Homo sapiens: one gene and its partners. The protein of the gene in region 6 purifies or fractionates together with the protein of the main gene of each other region. This does not show direct contact. Each region holds a gene or a part of one and is shown on either strand. Other genes may lie near its edges. The genes, in order: HAUS2, C1orf198, E2F3, GAN, WDFY1 and LBR.

Region 1 (3,500 bases), on a different chromosome or scaffold from region 6:
GTCCCAGCTACTTGGGAGGCTGAGCTGGGAGGATCACTTGAGCCTAGGAAATCGGGGCTGCAGTGAGCCATGTTTGGGCCATTGCACTCCAGCCTGGGTGACAGACGGAGACCCTGTCTCAAAAACAAAAAAACTTTATTGGTTCAAACAGCAATTCCTTTGAACTTAGAACAGTGTCTAGCACATAACTAGCTAGCTACATGTTTACTTACTAATAGTAGTTACAGTAATAGTAGTAAGAGTAGCAGCAGCAGGGCAAGAACAGCAAAATGAAAAACTTCAGTAAATCCCCTGGACTCTTTTTTTTTTTTTTTTGAGACAGAGTCTCACTCTGTCACCCATACTGGAGTGCAGTGGCACAATCTCGGCTCACTACATCCTGACCTCTGGTGATCCACCTGCCTCAGCCTCCCAAAGTGCTGGGATTACAGGAGTGAGCCACCGCACCTGGCCATGGACACTTTCTGATTGAGCTAAATGTTACTTTTGTTCCTCATGTAGAAAAACCTGGAAATTGAACTCCTGAAACTAGAAAAAGATACAGCAGATGTTGTTCATCCTTTCTTTTTGGGTAAGTGGTTTGGTTAAGTGGATAATCACTGGAATTTCAACTTTTTCTTGGATTACTGTAAATAAGCACCAGTCAGTCAAATTATGATACACCATCATTTTTCCAGGTGTTGTCCCAAAGCTAATGAAATCTTGTATTTCTATGCTGAAATAGAAGTTCTGTTGGCTTGAGTAGTACAAATAGCATAAAAAGTCACCAAATTGGCTCTTCAAAGTCAGGAGAACTTGAAAGACAAAGTCTGAGGAACTTTTCAGATTAAAAGAGACTAAAGGGACATGACAACTAAAGCACTGTATGATCATGGATCGATTTTTTATTTTAATGAGATGGGGTCTTCCTATGTTGCCTAGGGTAGTCCTGAATGGCTCAAGCAGTCCTCCCAAATCACCCTCCCAAGTAGCTGGGATCACAGGTACATACCACCATGGCTGGCAATGTTTTGAATATTTGATGAGAAAATGTTCTTGTGGCCAGGCGTGGAGAGTCACGCCTGTAAACCCAGCACTTTGGGAGGCCAAGGTGGGTGGATTGCTTGAGCCCGGGAGTTCAAGACCAGCCAACATGGTGAAACCCTATCTCTACAAAAAAAATACAAAAACTAGCCAGCATTGTAGCATGTACCTGTAGTGCCAGTTACATGAAAGGCTGAGGCAGAAGGATTGTTTGAGCCTGGGAGGTCGAGGCTGCAATGAGTTGTGATCGTAGCACTCCACTCCAGCCTGGGTGACAGAGTGAGACCCTGTCTCAAAAATTAAAATTCTTTTTGCTGTAAAGGACATTATTGGGATACTTAGTGATGTTTAAATATGGACTGTATTAAATATTGGTAGTATTGTATTAATGTTATTTTTTGAATTTGATAATGTGCTGTAGTTATATAGGAGAATGTTCCTCTTCTTGGGAAATACATGCTAACGTTTTACAGGTAAAAAATATCATGCTGTCTGCAGCTTACTCTAAAGTGGATCAGCAAAAATTAGAGAGAGAGAGAGAGAGAGAGAGAAGAGAGAGAAAGAAGATAAAAAGAAAATGTAGCCAAATGTTAATAATCGGTGAATAAGTAAAATGTATGTGTGAGTTCACCAAGCTTTTTTTGAAACTTTTCTGCAAATCTGAATTTTTCCAAAGAAGAATTTTAAAGAAAGGTCAATTGGCAGCCATTAACTGAATGGGGAAAATAATGAGATAATCAGAAATAGCTTGTAGGATGACTTTTTTTTTTTTTTTTAAGAGTGTGTCACTCTGTAACCCAGGCTGAAGTACAGGTCGCTGTAACTTCAACACGTGGTTTCAACTGATTCTCTCAAGTAGCTAGGACTACTGGCATGTGCCACCATGCCCAGCTAATTTTTGTTTTTTCAATTTTTTTGTAGAGATGAAGTCTTGCTATGTTGCCCAGGCTGGTCTCGAACTCATGGCCTCAATTCTCCCGTTTCAGTCTCCCAAAACACTGCGATTACAGGTATGAGCTAGAGCACCAGCTAAGGTGACTCTTTTTCGATGGTCTTTTATAGACTATTAGAGTCAGGGATAGGAAAAAAGACTTTGTGTTAAGAATATAGCTCTGGCTATAAGAACTGAATAAGAAGTAGAGATGAGAAACACAGAGAAAGAATTTAGCACTAGATTTGGTTATCACTAGGAAAAGAGATAATAGAAATATATTAGATATACAAAAACCGACTAAGAGAAAGTTGTTGAAAATGAAATTGGTATTGGTATTAAAGACAGCAAAAAGGAGACAGGAGGGTAATGATAGGATGAATTTTTGACATGGGTAGTGTCAAACCAAGGCAAAGAAGAAATTATTCTGTTATTTGTCCTATTGCTAACTATAATTACTGTTTTTTAATTTGTATAGCTCAGAAGTGTCATACTCTGCAAAGCATGAATAATCATTTGGAAGCAGTGCTGAAAGAGAAGAGATCCCTTAGGCAAAGACTGTTGAAACCCATGTGCCAGGAAAACTTACCTATTGAAGCTGTTTATCACAGGTTAGACTGAAAAGTAGAAATTAACAGTTACACCTGTTTTCTGAGTTTACTTTTTGTTTTGCAGTTACTTTGTAGCAGAATTCATAAAACAATTAGTGATTGTATTTGTTAACATTATTAATGGTGATATATTAAATCAGAAAGAAAATCTTTGCTTTTAAACCATTATACCTATGGCAAAAAGGAAGAACTTGGCCATCGTGTTTTGGGAATTATAAATTATGAGTTTAATGAAAGAAATTAGATCCATAACATGTAACAATAAAAACTGTTTGTATGTGAAGTAAATTCATTGTTGTAAAGTACATTCATTGTTGAGTTAATGTTGCCTATATGTAAAAATTCTATTGGCGGGGTTTAACTGGGGCAGATGAAAACACTATCAACTAAGGGAGGAAAAAACCTGGATTCTGTTCTCATCTCTACTGTTTATATGCCTCAAAGCCTTGAGCAAATGATTTACATTTTTGCCTTAGTTTCCCAATAAATAGAATAGAGATGAGTTCTATTGCCCTCTTCCTCACAGAGTATTACAAGTATCAAATTGAAGATGTAGATTATGACTAATGATAAATACTAGCCTGGACAACATGGCAAAACCCTGTTTCTACAAAAAAAAAAAATATAAAAATTAGCAACACATGATGGAACACACCTGTATTCCTGAGCTGGGAGGGTGACCTGAGCCCAGGAGGTCAAGTCTGCAGTGAGCTGTGATTGCACTAGCCTGGGTGACAGAGTGAGACCCTGTCTCAAATAAATACGAAGCAAGCATCTGGGGATCTCATTGCTAACTTTCTCCGCCAGTGCCTCACTAGCTTAAGCAAATCAGTATCTTAAGTGTCAGATTTTTTATTTTGTAGGAAAATAATAGATATACAAAAACTTATTCTTCCAAAAAAACAAAACAAGGCTGGGCACAGTGGCTCATGCCT
Region 2 (3,500 bases), 5.4 Mb from region 6:
CTGCTTCTCTTTAGAGTGGGGACTATCACCTATTTTATGGAAATACTTCTTTCAGAGGAAGCCCTCAGTGCCGAGTCTCAGAGAAAGAGTGCTGGTTAGGGAGGCAGGGAACTGAGCCTGTCTGTAAGGAGGAGCTGATGGGCAGGAGGATGTGAGACAGAAAACAGAACGGAGAGATGGGCAGGTACCGGAGAAGGCAGGAAACAAGAGGGCTGAAAGCACTAGCTTAAGAAGGTGCAGAAACACGAAGAGGACAGGCTAGAGCACTGATGTGGAGCCGAGGTGGGCAGAAGGTACTAGCACCGCTGGATCCTCCCTCCTCGGGAGGACAGCACGTGCAGCCATCTGCCGAGGGAGGTGTGGAAGTACTGGAAACCTGCTCTGGGGGACATTCAATGTTATCAGTGATGATCTCAACTCAACAACAAAATAACCAAAAATTTAAAAATGGGCAAGGGACCATTGGACATTTCTCCAAAGAAGATACACAGATGGCCAATAAGCACATGAAATGAGGCTCAACATCATTCACGATCATGGACAGGCAAGTCTAAACCACGGTGAGACACCACCTCATACCCCTTCGCATGGCACCAGCAAAGACACAGAAAATAACAAGTGTTGCAAGGGAGTGGAGAAACGCGAACCCACATTGATGGGAATGTAAAATGACGCAGCTGCTGTGGCGAACAGTATGCAGGTTCTTCAAAAAAGTAGAAATAGAACCACCATGTGATCCAGCAATTCTACATCTGGGTATGCACCCAGGAGAAGGGAAAGCAGGGGCTGGAAGACTTATTTGTACATACACGTTCACAGCAGCACTATTCCTAACAGACAACAATAGCCAGAAGGTGGAAGCAACCCAAGTGTCTGTCGATGGATGAGTGGATACACAAAATGTGGTCTAACCACACGATGGAATATTAGCCTTAGAAGGCAATTCTACACTTGCTACAACATGAATGAGCCTTGAAGACGTCACATTAAGTAAAGTAAGTCAGTCACAAAAGGGTAAATACTATATGGTGCTACTTATATGAGGTACCTAGAGGAGTCAAATTCACAGACACAGAAAGTGGAATGGTGGTTGCCAGGAGCTTGCGGGGAGGGATGAATGAGAAGTTAGTGTTGAACGGGTCCAGAGCTTTAGTTCTGCAGGATGAAAGGAGTTCTGGAGATGGATGGTAGTGATGGTTACACAGCATTGAGAATGTACTGAAATGCCACCAAATTTATACTGTAAAATGGTTAAAATGGTAAATGTTTGTATATTTTACCATAATAAAAACTTTTAAAATTCAGTATATGGAACCAGCCCAAATGCCCACCAATCAATGAGTGGATAAAGAAACTGTGGTATATATATACGATGGAATACTACTCAGCCAAAAAAGGAATGAATTAATGGCATCTGCAGCGACCTGGATGTAATTGGAGACTATTATTCTAAGTGAAGTAACTCAGGAATGGAAAATCAAACATCATATGTTCTCACTCATAAGTGGGAGCTAAGCTATGAGGATGCAAAGGCATAAGAATGACACAATGGACTTTGGGGACTCGGGGAAAGAGTGGGAGGTGGGTGAGGGATAAAAAACTACAAATTGGGTTCAGTGTCCACTGCTCGGGTGATGGGTGCACCAAAATCTCACACATCACCACTAAAGAACTTATGTCACCAAATACCACCCAAAACCTATGGAAATAAAAAATTTAAAAAATAAAAATTAAAAAAAAAAAGAGTGACCCACAAGAACCAAGGAGTCTCAAGGGCCAGAGGAGGATGGGTGAGGCTACCATGGAGGCAACTGCATCCTGGGCTCACTCCTCAGCAAGGCAGCCAGGAGCCCAGCGAGGCCCACAGAGGGGCAAGACCCAGTGAGGCCTCTCAAGTGTGCCTGCCTGCTTTGCCAACAGGCAGCTCCCCTGGCCCAAATCCAGACCAGTCCTAAAGAACAGACCATTGCCTCTATGGACAGCTCCCAAAAAGAAGGCCCAACACAGCTTTGAGCTGTGACAGCCCTGGGCGCAGCGCCTTCCAGGGGCCTCTTCTGATAGCAGCCCGCGCACTGGGGAAAGCGCAGTGGGCCACGGAACCCTGACTGGTAAACAAATTAGGGCACCCAGATGGACTCGCAAAACTTGTCTTGTTGCATATTTGTTGGTGGCTCAGCACCCTGAGCCTAGGCATCCTCTGAGGAAGAGGCAGGGGAAGGAGAAGAAAAAGAGCATGGGCACCTGTGGCCTGCCTGCTTTGTGGGGGACCCTCTCGGTTCCCGTGGAATAAGGCACCATCCCATCTGAGGACGCGCTGGTAAAGGCCACTCACCTGTGCAAACTTGGGTTCCGAGAACAGGGTGTCTTCCCCATCGTCCTGCCTGACATCAGGAGATGGCAGCTTCCCCTCGAGCTGGGAGGGGGCAGCCTCGTGCAGTGCACTGCTGAAGGCCTGGACAGGCTGGGGTCTCTCACGTTCGGTGCTCACGTTGGGAAGAGGACGCTGCTCCTGACGGAGGGTGCTGGGCCTTTCCACCTTGGCCTCCCTGTCCTTCGGGGCAGGTTCCTGCCGGTAGCAGGGAGGCAAGACCTTTTCCCCCTTCTCCATGGACTTGATCTGGCTAGGGGTCAGCGACTGGAACTCGGCCTCAGGCCCCTCCCCTCGGGACCGCTCAGCATTGATCTTCCAGAATGACGCTTCCTCCTCCTTCCTGGTGGGGCCCAGGGCGTCCAGGCTGGAGGACCTGCTGCCTTGGGAGGACTTGAGGGCCTGGGAGCCCTGGGAAGCTTTGGACAGTGGTCTGGGCTCGCTGGCGGCGGTGCCGTTGCTCGGCTCCTGGATGGATAGGGCGGAGATACTGAACTCCATCTGACTCTAGGGTGGGACATGAGAAAGGACAGAAAAAAGAAAGAGATCCTGAGAATCGACCGTCACAAGTGTGCCAGCTCACGCACCCCTCCTCAGCATAAGGACGCACACCAGCCACACACGAGTTGTTGCCCATGTGCTGGAACTGTCTGTCCTGAGTGGTGGGTATGGTCAGGACTCCCATCGCACACCTGAAATGCATCAGAAGCTTAAATGCCAAGGCCGGGTGACAGAGTGTGGGTGGTGGTCCCCTCCCAAATCTCATGTCGAACTGTAATCCCCAGTGCTGGAGGTGAGGCCTCGTGGGAGGTGTCTGGATCACAGGGGCGGATGTTGTCTTCATGATGGTGACTTCATGGCTTGGTGCTGTCTTCATGATAGTGAGTCCTCATGAGATCTGGTCGTTTAAAAGGGTGTGGCACCTCCCCCTGACTCTCTCCCTCTTGCTCCTGCTCTGCCATGTGAGATACCTGCTCTCCTCCGCCTTCCACCATGAGCCACAGCCCCCTGAGGCCTCCCCAGAAGCCAAGCAGATGCCGATGCCATGTTTCCTGTGCAGCCCGCAGAACCGTGAGCCAATTAAACCTCCTCTCTTTATAAATTACCCAGTCTCAGGTATTTCTTTAAAACA
Region 3 (3,500 bases), on a different chromosome or scaffold from region 6:
GACCAGCCTGGGCAACAGGGTAAAACCCCATCTCTACTAAAAATAAAAAAAATTAGCCGGGTGTGGTGGTGCACGCCTGTAGTCCCATCTGTTTGGGAGGCTGAGGCACGAGAATCATTTAACCCCAGAGACGGAGGTTGCAGTGAGCTGAGATTGGGCCACTGAACTCCAGCCTGGGTGACAGAGCAAGATTCTGTCTCAAAAAGAAAAAGGAAATAACTACCAAGAGTACTGAGATATTATACTTTTCTCTTTTCCTAAATCAGTGTTTCTCAAATTCATTCAAGTCGCAGAGCACCTGGAAACTGCTTTCTTCCTCATGAACACTGAAATATTGATAGAGTTAATATAGTATCACGCAAAGCATAATTTTTCTAACAGAAATAATGACACTCTTTTCTGTAGGCAGTACATAATCACAACCAGCCCAGGTGCACTTAAGAAAACAAGCTGTCTGCCTGAGCAGTATTCTGAGTTCCTCCACTAATGTATTTGTTACTTATTTATTTACTTGGTGGCTGCTGACACTTGCTTGTAGATAGAAGTAACTGGAGTTTCAAAAAAATTATGGCTAATAGAGATTACATTTTTTTTTCCTGCAAATTGGAATCTGCCATCATTCAGTTTGAGTGACAGAACACTTTATTGGAGTTCATGGAATGCCTGTGCTGCAAAGGACCCTGGCTTCAAGATAAAATTTCTGACCACTTAGTTTTTTATTTTCTTATGATCATTTATTTTAACTGTTCTGTTTCTATGTTTAATATTTTAAATAGCCATAGTCTTTTTAGAAATGGGCGGGATAAAGCTATTCATTTCTTTAGTTGTTTAGAGTGTCAACCAGAAATGAAGATTCATGGGAGACCCTAAACATTTGCACATCCAGAAGGGGAGACATACACATACTTTTTTGAGAAGGAGTCTCGCTCTGTCGCCCAGGCTGGAGTGCAGTGGCGCGATCTCGTCTCACTGCAAGCTCCACCTCCCGGGTTCATGCCATTCTCCGGCCTCAGCCTCCCGAGTAGCTGGGACTACAGGCGCCCGCCACCACGCCTGGCTAACTTTTTGTATTTTTAGTAGAGACGGGGTTTCACCGTGTTAGCCAGGTTGGTCTCCATCTCCTGACCTCATGATCCACCCGCCTCGGCCTCCCAAAGTGCTGGGATTACAGGTGTGAGCCACCGCGCCCGGCCACATATGCATACTTCTAAGTCATAAAATACTTTAAAATATTCCATGCATCTATTTTGTCATTTTCATCATACTTATATCTGAGGTAATTAGATGGAAGATTCCTTGACACTCTTTACGTTAGCTTATGTTACATATCAAGATATTCGAAAAATTAGTGGCCTTAAAGACCAAACTGTTATAGTTGTGAAAGCCCCTCCAGAAACAAGACTTGAAGTGCCTGACTCAATAGAGGTAAGGAGACAGCGTCTTTGTTCATCTGCAAAGATCTTTGTGGAATGCCTGAAATTGAATGACTCATTGACTCATAGTTAAAGTCTGTCCCCCTCCTATGAACTTGATGGTTCTTTCCCATTTATTTTACTTAACCATACATTTGAAAACATTTCAATGGTTTGATGTTCATTGAGTATTCAAACAACCTAACTTTGACCTAGCAGGATGTTCAGTTCAAAGTGGTATATGATGCGCTGTCCCTCTCATACTTTCTCTTTTTCATAATTTGTCATCAACGGTTTTGATCAATTTGAATCACTTTGGAAAGTTTATATTGATTATCCTGTATATGGTCCCCACCACGAACAGATATATAAATGTTTTAAAGTCTCTCCCTAACTTATAACATTTTGAGAGATCACATGGGGCTTTGGGTTAGCTGATAGACTAGAATATTGCAAGAAAGTAGGGGGCATATTTTTGTAATTTTCAGATATACTTGGATAATAGAGGCCTAGACTACAACTATAACATAAAGAGTTGTAGTAAAAAGAAAATGCATAGGAGATAAAAAGAGAATGAAAGTTACACGCTTCCATCTAGGGTAGACTTCTTACCTTAAAAGATAATAATAGCTCTTTGACCTAGATGAAAAAGATTTTTAAATGTTGGTATGCTGCATTCTCTTAATAGATGCAGTTCCTAGCACTTAAGAATACTATTCATCAGTATACAGTTCAACATGAAAAAGTCCTACCATAAAGGAACAATAACATGGAGATACTGAATTTGGAACACTTAAAGGACCTTGTAATAATTTGCAGAAAAAGAATATATCCAAAGAACACAATTCACCTCACCCATTGTGCTATTTTCAGAATGACTCCCCTCTCCCCCAAGCCCCACTAAAATAGTTTTCTTTCTCTAGGGCAGGACTCAGCAAACTTTTTCATTGAAGTGCCAGGTAGATAGTAAATATTTTTGGCTTTGCGAGCCGTACAGCCTGTGTCTAGACTATTCAACTGTGCACCTCTGACATTGTGATACGAAAACAGCCAGAGGCAATAATAAACAATGGGAATGGATGTGACTCTCTTCCAATAAAACTTTATTTACAAAGCCACTTGGTGAACTGGATTTGGCCCTTAGGCTGTGGTTTGCTGACCCCTGCTCTAGAGGATGACAGTCTTTCATAGAGTTGGACTAGTAGGGAAAAAGCAAGTGAAAAACGAACATTGTTCTTACTTTCCATTTTTAGACAAGAATTACTATGGCTTTTATTTCTAAAAGAACTTCTGATTCGAACTTCTCCCACTTCTGTTCATAGAGCCTACAAATACATTTGGCAAGTACCCAAGGGCCCATTGAGGTTTACTTATGTCCAGAAGAGACTGAAACACACAGTCCAATGAAAACAAACAACCAAGACCACAATGGGAATATCCCTAAACCCGCTTCCAAAGGTAAAAACTCCACTTTTGTCTTTTAGAAACTATGTTAAAAATGAGGGTGACTAGAACCATCTGTATTGGAACCACAAGCCTAGGCAAGAAACACAAACTTCTATTGGTATTAGGTAACATGTTTTAAAAGACATTCTGACTGGTTTGCAGAAGAAAATAATGATTTGGGAAAAACGGCTCCTTCACCCACTTATGGAGTCGCTTCAGGCTTTTGCTATTGGCAGAGAATGTTTCCTTACAGCATTTTTGAAAACCAGCTAAAGTGAGGAGCAAAGCTGTGAACTGTCTTGTTGGATCATCAGAGACACTTGGCCACACACCTTTGAATCACACTGCAGAGCTCATCAGAGAGGGAAATGAAAAAGGTTTGAGGAGAAAAGCCTTTGTTGGAGAATTTTTGTCTTATTTTCCCCCCCAATGAGATGGGGAGAGGATATGGGAGGAGAACGCTAGGAAAGTAAGTCTTGCCGGGTGCGGTGGCTCACACCTGTAATCCCAGCACTTTGGGAGGCCGAGGCAGGCAGATCACGAGGTCAGGAGATCGAGACTGTCCTGGCCAACACAGTGAAACCCTGTCTCTACTAAAAATACAAAAATTAGCTGTGCGTGGTGGCACGTGCCTGTAATCCC
Region 4 (3,500 bases), on a different chromosome or scaffold from region 6:
AGCTGCTGTGTCCGCCTCCACTGCCAAACCTGGCCCAGGGCATCCCACTTTCCATCTGAACAACTGCAGCACCTGCTGAAACGGCCGCTGGTTCCACTCTTGGCTTTTATAGAGCACACCCAGCAGCACTGCATTGGAGTGACTTTAAAACAATACACAAACAAATATTCCTCTTTTAAAATACACCACTGCCCATCCATAGCCCGTAAGATAAAGCCTAAACTCTCTATCAGACTCAACTATGCCATCAATTGCTTTTTTGTCCCTTTCTCATATCCTATCACCTCCCCAGCCAGCTCCCAATACACAACATGGCAGCAGAAGTTTCATCTTCTTTGGAAGCAGTCTAAATGCCAGCTCTAACTCAGGGATCACAGGCCTTCCCAGCCTCTAATCTGTTGTCGATGCCATCCCACCCTTTGCTCACCATCTCCAGGTATGTGGTGTTCTGTTCCCAGAGAGGCCTGACCTAGTCCTGGTGCCACCCCTGATCCTGGTGCCTCCCCCTGCTCTTCTCATGCCTAGGTCTCCTCCTCCCTCAGATCTCAGTTTCAATGGCACCACCTCGGAGCAGGGATCCCGTCACCCAGGCCACAGCAGCAGCCATGCTCATCCTCTGTGGACTTCCTTCGGCAAACTCATATGGCTCTGTAATTAGACCCCTTTACTGCTCACCTCCCCAGGTAGCCCCCATGGATGCTGGCACTCCGTCTAGAAAGGGCAATGAACAAACGGGCATATTAGAGAGGCTTAGCCAAGAACTGATGTTCTCTACTTAAAGAAAGTCATTTCTGTAAATGTGATTAATTGGGGTAACACTATAATAATAAAGGGTCAAATCAGCCAATTAAATTCTTTTAGGGCAGACTATCAGAAGTTTCTACTCTGATAAACACAGCAAATCTATTCTCTGCTCATTCTTGAGATTCTGAAACTACCCATAACACAAGGATGTTATAAAAAAACTAAGTGAAATCAAAAGTAATCTTTAAATCTTTAGTTTTATGTTTATTTCCTTCTCCAGCCCCACAGAGATAGAAAAATAAATAGACTGACATAGGTCTCCACATACTGGGTTAGTTTTGATACTCTCTGTGGGAGGCCACTGAATACAATGCTCCAATGGCAGGCAGCACAAGAGGATGGAGTCCTGGAGGGCGCAATCCTCTGTAAATGACTGAAATGGAGGCTCCAGGAGGACAGTGGCCTTGTCAGTTCGTTGCCACCATCTTGCCAGTACATAGATGCTGCTGAGATGTCTTGAGTTATCTCCTGTGTATGTATTAAACGACTAAACCTGTAATCAACTCCCTAAACAACACCCTAATTATATAGAAGGTCCCTTTACTGTGAAATATATCTGTGAAGAAACAATACACAGTATATCTCAATAACTTTAGACAATGCTAATTCTTGAACTGCAATCTATTATTGGTAAACACAACCCCACAGCATATGGGTTAAGGCAGTGATGACATTTCTTAAGGATGTCCCAAGACTTATTATGACAGTGAATATTTTCATAACCCCTTTTCTGATCACTATGAAAGAAGCCTATAAATAAAGGAAATGGTAACCTCTTTTGCTCAAGCACCCCACTCAGGGGGTGATAAAAATGAGATGTCTATTCCTTTCCTACCAACAGCAGGCATTGTAATTTTTAGGCGGGGAACAAAGTTGATAGCTTTGGTCGCACAAGACAGTAGCTGTTAAGGAGGCCAAGCAGGAGAACAAACAAACCCACCAAAAACCCCGAGAGAAGTCTCTTATCTGTTATACTAAGTGTCAAATCCCTGTACCAACTTTCATGTAAGGAAGAGAAGCTAGAAGTTGTGGGAAACTATTCCCTGGACTAACCAAATGGAAGACTATACAATTAACCAATGGGTCCTGCTGGCCTCCAGCTCCATCACTGAAGTAGACTGGGGGCTGTAGCATGGAGAGGAGAATGGCAAACACGAATATCAGGGAACTTTCTAAGGATTTTCATTGTCCTTCAAAATCCCGCTGTCCTTAAACTTCTGGCTTCATTTCTAGTGAATGTTCTCTGTGGGTTAGAAAAGACTCATATCAAACTCACAGCCTAAATGTGAGGTTTCAGTATGAAGTTTCTTACAATTCAGGGACTGATCAATATAAACAATTTAAGTGACAAAAGTGCAAATATTTTGAGCTCAGTAATACTAAACCATTTACTATTATTCAGAGGTGTAGGCAACTGGTTACTGATGAATGCTAATAGGACCATAAAACTATGTTTCAAAATATATCTAGTCATATTAATATGTTACCATAAAAATCACAAGCATCAAATGGTCTTTAAAATTGTTCTTAAAAACATAAACAACTTTGTAGTTGAGAGAACCACAAAATATCTACGAGCAAAAATATACATTTAAGTTTCTATAAAAACTCAAATCCAAATAAACCCCAAAGATATTTAATTGGTCTGTATTTCATTATTCAACAGTCAACTTTTAAAAACTAGTCCTCCTATCTTCCATTTATGATACGCATTGGCCCTCTAAGCCTTACTCTATTGAAATGGAGGCTCCAGAAGGGCAAAGGCCTTGCCAGTTGGTTGCCACCATCTTGCTAGTACCTAGCCGCTGCTGAGATGTCTTATCTCCTCTGCATGTGGTGAACACTGGAGATAACCAACAAAATATTTCACCAAGATCTTATTTACCTAAGTATTCCATTTTTCTAACTTATTTGAACAGAGGAAAAGTCCAAATCCCTTCACTATAATAGCAAATGGCAAAGTACTACGTATTTCTATTTTGCAGTATTTCTGTAATAATCTTTATGAGAAATTAGGGCATTCACATTCCCAGAGAGAAATGAATGCAGCAAACATCTGACCATCATTCTATGGCTAAGTCACTCTTTGGCCCTAAGTACTTAGGAAGATGATTTAACTCTGCTCTTCCAAGCACCAGAATCAGGAACTCTGGTAGAGTGTCGGGCCATCTAGATGGACATAGAATCTTTATCCTCCACAGAGCCAGAGCTGCCACCTTTACCTGAGCCTTTGATTTCCTTCCTTCTTTGGATTTGTTGTGGCTTAGGAGGAAGAGAACCCATGGGAAGCGCTCAAATGCAAGGTCGCAACCATAGCCTGCCACGTGTCACATCTCACACCCCCGTATCTCCACCCTTAACCCAGAATTCAAACTCACAAATCATTCATTTATATTACAGCTTTAGTACACAAAATGATAGTCTTGTGTCTTTCAGAAGGATGATGCAACCCTGTGAAGAACTTATTGCATGGCACTCACAGACCAAATGAACCCTTATTTGTCCTAATTATGTTTTCCTTACAAATTATAAATAGATTTTAAGTCCCACTTTGATATCATAAGAACTCATTAACACTTTAAACAATGGATAAGGCGGTTTTGAAAACTGGATGCTTACTCTATATCATCCAAATATAAATCCTAAGGAACCAGAGTTTCTATGTGGAAGAGCATTTTACTTCAATCCTAAATTAT
Region 5 (3,500 bases), on a different chromosome or scaffold from region 6:
AGTGTTTTGAGCAAAGTAGTATGTGGTTGACAAAGAAAAATGAATAAAGAGATTATTTCACCATGAAGTATGACAAAAATACATCATGAAATCAGTATATATGTGCTAATAATGTCTTAACAACTCTCAGAAAGATTTGCTGAGCATACTTTGTAGAGAGGGAAGATGAATACCTAAATTCTAGAAACAAGTATCATTCATTATATTACCATCTGCTTCTTAGGAAAGAACTAGCAGATTATTAAAGCTAAACACAGCAGAGGAAATGTCTACTGTGCAGAAATGGTTAAGTCTGTATCATTCAACCAGTAGCTAGTTATGCAGTACCTGGTGGAGTACAGACTATGTGGGAAGATAAGATGAATAAACACAAAGCAACAGGAACTAATACCTGATTGTAATTAACTAGGCATCATCAGTAATATACTAGGAGTGTTGAAGGAAGCTCAGAAAGGACAGAGAATGATGGGCTGGGAAGAATTATTCAATGGAGGAGGTGGAACTTGAAGTGGATCTAGGAGATGAAGGAGGGTCTGAATACAGGAGAGAGGGCAAGTGAGGTTCCTGGTGAGGGAGGCAAAGGCACCCAGGTGGGAAATGTACCAGGTGTGAGTGGGACAGAACACACACTGACTTCACTGGACACAAAAGAACCATAATAAATGAGAGATAGAAGGTGGAAATAAAGCTTAGCAGGGAGCAGTTATGGGGTTCCCAAAGTCCTTTTTTTTTTTTTTTTTTTTGGGGACAGAGTCTTGCTTTATTGCCCAAGCTGGAGGGCAGCAGCATGATCTTGGCTCACTGCAACCTATGCCCCTTGGGTTCAAGCAATTCTCGTGCCTCAGCCCAGCTTCTTGGGAGGATTACAGGCATGAGCCCCTACACCTGGCTAATTTTTGTATTTTTAGTAGAGACAGAGTTTGACTATGTTGGCCAGGCTGGTCTCTAACTCCTGGCCTCAAGCAATCTGCCTGCCTCAGCTTCCCCATGTTCTGTGATTACAGGCATGAGCCACTGCGCCCGGCCCCCAAAGTCCTTTTACAGACATGATTAAATAAGGAGCTAATGAAAGGTCATGAGCAGGAAAAAGACACAATAAAAGCCTAGTTAAAGATAGGAGATTAGTGGGACAGATCCAAGTACAGTATGCTGGAACTCAGGGAAGCCAGTTAATAGGCTTTGAAAAATGAGGTTTAAAAGATGATGAGGACAAACACTAGGGTAATTATGGGCAGGTGGGCAGAAAAGAGTTCCCACAGCAGGCCTGCTGCTGCTGTCCTTAGAAAGTCTTGCTTGCAAGGTTGGCCCTTGGCAGGTGTCTGGGACCTTGTTTATCCAGAGGGGACCTCACCATTCCCTAACTCCTAAGAATGGCTCACTGTGCTTCATGCCTGTATAAAATATGTGGTTTATGTTGACCACCTACCTTCCTTCTGAGAGTTTGGAATTTTGGAACATTAGCCAAGGGCACCTACATGACCAGCCTCTAACACTGAATAAAGTCTCTAAGGAGCTTCCCTGATAAACAATATTTCACACATGTTGTCTTAATTCAATCTGAATTAGCCTGTCCTGTGACTCCACAGGAAGAGGACTCTTGGAAGCCTTGTGTCTGGTTTCCTCTGGATTTCACCCCATGTGCTGATTTTGTTTTGCGTCTTTTGGCTATGATAAATCACAGCCATGCGTATGACTATAATGTGTCAATCTTTCTAGTGAATCAATGAACCCGATCTTGAGGATCTCAAATATAGCAGGGGAAAGATGTCTAAGTGAAACTAATCACTGACATGACCTGCAAGTAACCAAATATGGAAATAAAGAAAAGGCATGACTCAAAGGCAGTTCTAAGAATTTAGGATTGTAAATAACCCCTCAAATGGTATTGTCCTATTCAAACAGGAAAAATTTTTTTATTTTCACTTATTCACGTGCACACACAAACATGCATACAAAGTAGAAACATATTACTCTTTCGTAAGATTAAAGTAACAAAATGCAAAATAAGTGGAAATGAAAATAATAATAGCTAACACTTGTATAGTGCTTTCTCTGTCCCAGTCTTTAAGATTAAAGCAATTAAATGGAAAATAAATGGGAATGAAAACAATAACAACTAACACTTGCATAATGTTTTCTCTGTGCTAGGCACTGTTCCACGTGGTTTAATTCACCTAATCCTCACAAAACTCTGTAAAGCAGGTACAAAACGGACTCATGTCCATTTTGCACATGAGAAAACTGTGATACAGTGAGGTTAAATAACTTGTCTAAGATCACAGGGCTGGGATTCAAACTGAGGCATTCTGGCTCCCAAGCCTTTGTTCTTAACTATGCTATAAAAAGAAAATGATTGTAACAATGAAGGATCACCCTAACAATACAGGAGTAAATGTGTGGGGTGGCCACCCAGGCTTCCTGCCTTCTCAAGTCTTCAGTTTATTTTATAACACAAATTAAAGTCTACTTTTAGGCTCTGCATGACAATGAAAATACAGCAGTTAACATCCTGGTTTTCTGTATTAACTAATGAATTCCAGCTATGCCAGCCTTCCTCCCAGGCATAACACTTAAAAATCAAGTTATTTATTTAAGATTGTTTCTATGTGAACAATTGGTAAATACACAAATTTTTCCCCAAACCATCTTAATAAACTTAGATATATCTAAGTGGAAGCAAATATATTACATATTTGGTATAATTTTTAAAAAAGGAAAATGCTAAAAAACATCTAAAAGTTGGTTTTCTGTAATCTTTACTCTTTCCCAGCCTAAGTGCAACATCTCAAAACATTTTAAATCACATGAGATTTATCTTTAACTTGGGACAAACAAAATTGAGTTTCCTGCAGAAACCAATCTTGGCCTACGAGCCCCTAATGCAACAGTATAAGTACGTCCATCCACAAACTCTATTTCTCAAAAGTGAAGACAGTAGGCCTATAGCCTTAACTTATTTATAAGGCTTTATAAAGCTTTTACCTTTTAAAAATTGTATCATTCAATCAACTGACTGTCTACATTTTTGGTGCAGTCCACAGCAAAAAAGTCCAAAAAGCAAACATACTGGTTCCTACTGTCTCACCATTTTAGTTCCGCTCTGAAAGCAGAGTCTTATTTTCTGTTTCCCCTACCAGGAAAGTCACCACTGTAGTTCAAATTCTTAAACTTAAATTTAAATTAAAGAGCTTAAGGTAATTATTACTTCAGCAAAATACTAATGACTTCATACAAGAAGTAGTACCATTTTCTATTAACCATTCACGAGACATTAATCCATAAAGGTTTCTAAGCAGAACCCTAAGCTGACCACCCAAACCACTAATGACCTGTGACTCCCAGGTGTAATGGCATTAAGCTTTGATATTCCACATTGGCTTAATACTCTTTGGAGTGCTGACCGTATCTAGCTTTGTCATATGCAGTTTGATTACAGTGAACTAGGTGGCTATCTGTGAATGACCCCAGGTAAATATATCCCAGAAGGTGACAAAAAAAAA
Region 6 (3,500 bases):
CCTTTTTAAATTTTACCTAGTTTTAGGCTTGGAGTTGCAGATAGAGAGCAAAGAGTTCCCTTCCACCCTTCATTCTGTTTCTCACAACATTAACCTTGGAGGAAACCGTAGTGTAGTGATGAAGAACAGCAGATTAACATAGTGACAGCATTGGTTACCAAGTCCACAGGCCTCAGTCGAGTTCACCAGTTTTTCCGCTGTTGTCCTTTTTCTGTTCCAGGAACCTCGACAGGACTCCACAATACATTTAGTTGTTATTCCTTCTTAGTCTTCTCTAGTCTAATAGTTGTTTAGGCTTTCCTTGTCTCTCATGACCTTGATACTTTTTGGAAGGTACTGGTTGGTTATTTTGTAAGTGTCCCTCAGTTTGGGTCATTCCAGTGTTCTCTTTGATTGCGGTAAAGTTACCCACTGTGACAGGAACACAGAAATGATAGCTGTGTCCTTCTCAGTGCATTGGGTCCAGGGGCCCATGGTGCTGAGATGTCTTATTCCTGGTGGCGGGTAGGAGTTACGGTGGCGTCTGCCAGGTGTCTCAGCTGTGAAGCTCACTCATGCCTTTGTAGTGCTAAGGTCTCTGGGGAGGTGCTTTGAGGCTATATACTTTCCCCTTTTGTTTCAGGTGGTTATTAACTTGGTGATGCTTTTGGCTGAAATGAAAATACAGGACCGCGCTGTTCCATCCTTGGCCATGATTTTAGTTAATAGTTTCCAGCTTCTCTATGTGGTGGATGCTCTCTGGAATGAGGTAATTAATTTTAAGAGCCGAGGCCTTGGAGTCAGATGGCTTTGAGTGGGTGAGTGACCTGTCAGAGCCTCGGCTTCTTGCACACAAAGTGAGGGGAGCATGGCCTGCCTCCAAGGCTGCTTGAGAGGAGGACGAGGCCATCCATGTGAAGCTGACGAGGGAGCACTGACAGGTGGGAAGTTTCTAGGCATTTGGGAGTGCTTCAGTGTTTATCAGCTGTTCTTGTGTTTAAAAGTAATATTCTAAATATTTAAGATTGGTGGATCTTGGTTTTGTTTTTGTGGGTGGTGGTAATTATGGTATCACATGAAAATGGATGGATTATTACTAAATTAGAATGGTGTTTCTTGGACTGTCAAGAGTCACCTAGTTTTTAAATAATGGGGGAGATGTTTTATTGTTAATGTTTTAAAATACAAAGACTAGCTCTAATTAGATGAATGTAAAATCAGAAATCAAGATGCATTGAGGAAACCAGTTGAAATAAGGCTAAGTTTCCATCTTGTGTCTTTTTTCATACATTGATTAGTCTTTCTACTAGTTGAAGACTGGTAAATGTTTTGTTTGTTTTCTCTGTCTCAGCCAGCATATTCCTTTTAAAAATTTTGTCTTCCTCAGGCTTATTTTACAAGTATTTTATCGTATTTACTGTTATCTTTGTAATTATCTCCAAATTCCAACTCTAGTTTTCTTTCCATATTAAAAACAAATCTGGCAGCTGTACATCATAATGTTCCAAAACAAGTTTTAGTGACAGTCTGTTGAGACAATCTGCTGACATTTTGAGAGAAGACCTTTTCTCTTTGAGCCTGGAACATTAAAAAAAATTATATTATTTGGTCATCAATACTATGTATCTCCCCCACCCCTGCTGGCTGGTCTTTAATTTTGGCCTTCTATGCAAAATTGCAGAGAACATTTAGTCAGAACAACTTCGCAAGTTTGATATTGGTGTTTCGATGATCTCCTTGTTATTTAGGAAGATTAGGGCCACTTTGAGGTAAACCTCAATTACAAGCGGTGGGATTAGTGCTATCCGCTAATTACGGGTTCCTGTTGCGCTCCTACCACTTCACAGACCCTGGCTCAGAGCTTGGGAAGCTGTGAAGGTGGTGATAACACTTCAAATTGACTTTAAAAATTCCACGTCGACCCAAAATTAAACATGTTTTTGAAATTAAAAAACAACTGTTTTGTAAATGCACTTACTGTTACCAGTGTAGCTTTGTTTGCTGTTATAGAATGAATCGCCAAAAGAGCATATAGGTTACAGTTTGCAAATCAAATGATATTTCACAGTTGTGCTCACCTCAGAGGCTTCTTTAAACCTTCCTTTCTAGTAGCTTTCCACTGATCAGTGATTATTTCTTCTGGTTTCTTCTATTACTAGCTTTCTGCCATGTTGTGGTTGTCACTTTTTAATTGGCTTAGAAGTTGATATTTTCTATAGATTTAGCCAAACATTGACTTGTGTTAAAAGAAAATTTTTTGCATCTTAAGGCAAAACGCTTAATGCAATATTAACATAGCCCCAGGGGTAGAGAACTAGAGTTAGGAAATTGTTTTCTGTCTGTTCTCAGTATCTCAGCCAGATGATAATAAGCTTCTTGAGGAAAGATTGTATTTTATGATTTCTTCAGCATTCTGGCATGCCACTGGGCAATTAGCAGATGCTTAATAACTTCTGTCAGGTCACTTGATAGAAATCCCTCTGTATTCAAGAATGTGCTATACCTTAAGAAAACTGAGACTACCTGTTTAAATATGCATGACCCTTCCTCTGAGCCGTCCTGTGAAAGCCTTGGGGCTCAGGAGCTGGTGGGGCTAAGGTCCTCCCCCTACCCGGCATTGGGTGCTTACCCTTTGCCCTCTCACTGCCACTCACCACACCTGCTTTTATCTGCTCCCACCAATTTGTCACCTTTATCCTCTTTTGGACCAGGAATCAGATCACAGGCCTTGAGAGAGAAGAATAAGACACTCTTGGGGACAGAAAGTTAAAACACCGTGTGTCCTCACTTATATGTGGGCGCTAAAAAAGTTGATGTCATAGAAGTATAAAGTAGAACAGAGGATATGGGAAGGTGGGAAGGGTAGGGGGAAGGGAAGGATAGGGAGAGGTTTGTTAAAGGATACAAAATTACCACTCGATAGGAGGAGTAAGTTCTAAGTTCTAGTATTCTATACCACTGTAGGATGACTATAGTTAACAGTGATACATAGTTTCAAATAGCTAGAAGGATATTGAATATTCCTAACACAAAGAAAGAATGTGTTTGAGATGATGGATATGCTAATTACCTTGATTGGATTACTATATATTACATGTATTGCAACATCACTGTGTACCCCATAAATATGTACGATTATTACATGTCAATTTTTTTTTTTAAAGAGAATAAAGTACTCTGGTTAACTAAAGAGTATAAGCCTAAGGAGCTAGATTTTGTGAGATTGGTTTTTCTGTTTCATGTGACATCTGTTTTTCTGTTCCATGGCCTATTTGCTTTCTTTTCTGGAAAAAAATGCTATTTAGAGGTACCACTCTTTTTCTTTAACCTAGAACTTTGATTCTCCAACAGAGCTTATACTGGCTAATATTTCTACATCAGTGGTCTGTACTGAGGTTCTGGGTAGTTTAGAGATTCCCTTAGGCCAGACCTTCAGAGTGTTGACCTTGGTGGTGGTTCCGTATTCTAGAGTCTGGCCTGCCCGTATCCTGGGCCAGAGGCGATCTGGCTCATGCTAACCA

Evidence for each region.
Region 1: the proteins of LBR (region 6) and HAUS2 purify together in Homo sapiens (affinity purification with mass spectrometry; one large-scale study listed by BioGRID and IntAct). This does not show direct contact.
Region 2: the proteins of LBR (region 6) and C1orf198 purify together in Homo sapiens (co-immunoprecipitation; one large-scale study listed by IntAct). This does not show direct contact.
Region 3: the proteins of LBR (region 6) and E2F3 purify together in Homo sapiens (pull-down; one large-scale study listed by IntAct). This does not show direct contact.
Region 4: the proteins of LBR (region 6) and GAN purify together in Homo sapiens (co-immunoprecipitation; one large-scale study listed by IntAct). This does not show direct contact.
Region 5: the proteins of LBR (region 6) and WDFY1 purify together in Homo sapiens (co-immunoprecipitation; one large-scale study listed by IntAct). This does not show direct contact.

Annotation. Positions count from the first base shown.
Region 1 is NC_000015.10:42,558,838-42,562,337, forward strand, and holds part of HAUS2 (HAUS augmin-like complex subunit 2), read left to right. Parts: intron 1-501; coding exon 502-571; intron 572-1,944; coding exon of another isoform or gene 1,945-2,033; intron 2,034-2,432; coding exon 2,433-2,565; exon of another isoform or gene 2,566-2,853; intron 2,854-3,500.
Region 2 is NC_000001.11:230,841,022-230,844,521, forward strand, and holds part of C1orf198 (uncharacterized protein C1orf198), read right to left. Parts: intron 2,876-3,500; coding exon 2,333-2,875; intron 1-2,332.
Region 3 is NC_000006.12:20,485,379-20,488,878, forward strand, and holds part of E2F3 (transcription factor E2F3), read left to right. Parts: intron 1-1,310; coding exon 1,311-1,425; intron 1,426-2,734; coding exon 2,735-2,870; intron 2,871-3,500.
Region 4 is NC_000016.10:81,321,462-81,324,961, reverse strand, and holds part of GAN (gigaxonin), read right to left. Parts: intron 1-3,500. UniProt on the Homo sapiens protein: Probable cytoskeletal component that directly or indirectly plays an important role in neurofilament architecture.
Region 5 is NC_000002.12:223,935,336-223,938,835, forward strand, and holds part of WDFY1 (WD repeat and FYVE domain-containing protein 1), read right to left. Parts: intron 1-3,500. UniProt on the Homo sapiens protein: Positively regulates TLR3- and TLR4-mediated signaling pathways by bridging the interaction between TLR3 or TLR4 and TICAM1.
Region 6 is NC_000001.11:225,407,539-225,411,038, reverse strand, and holds part of LBR (delta(14)-sterol reductase LBR), read left to right. Parts: intron 1-622; coding exon 623-748; intron 749-3,500. UniProt on the Homo sapiens protein: Catalyzes the reduction of the C14-unsaturated bond of lanosterol, as part of the metabolic pathway leading to cholesterol biosynthesis.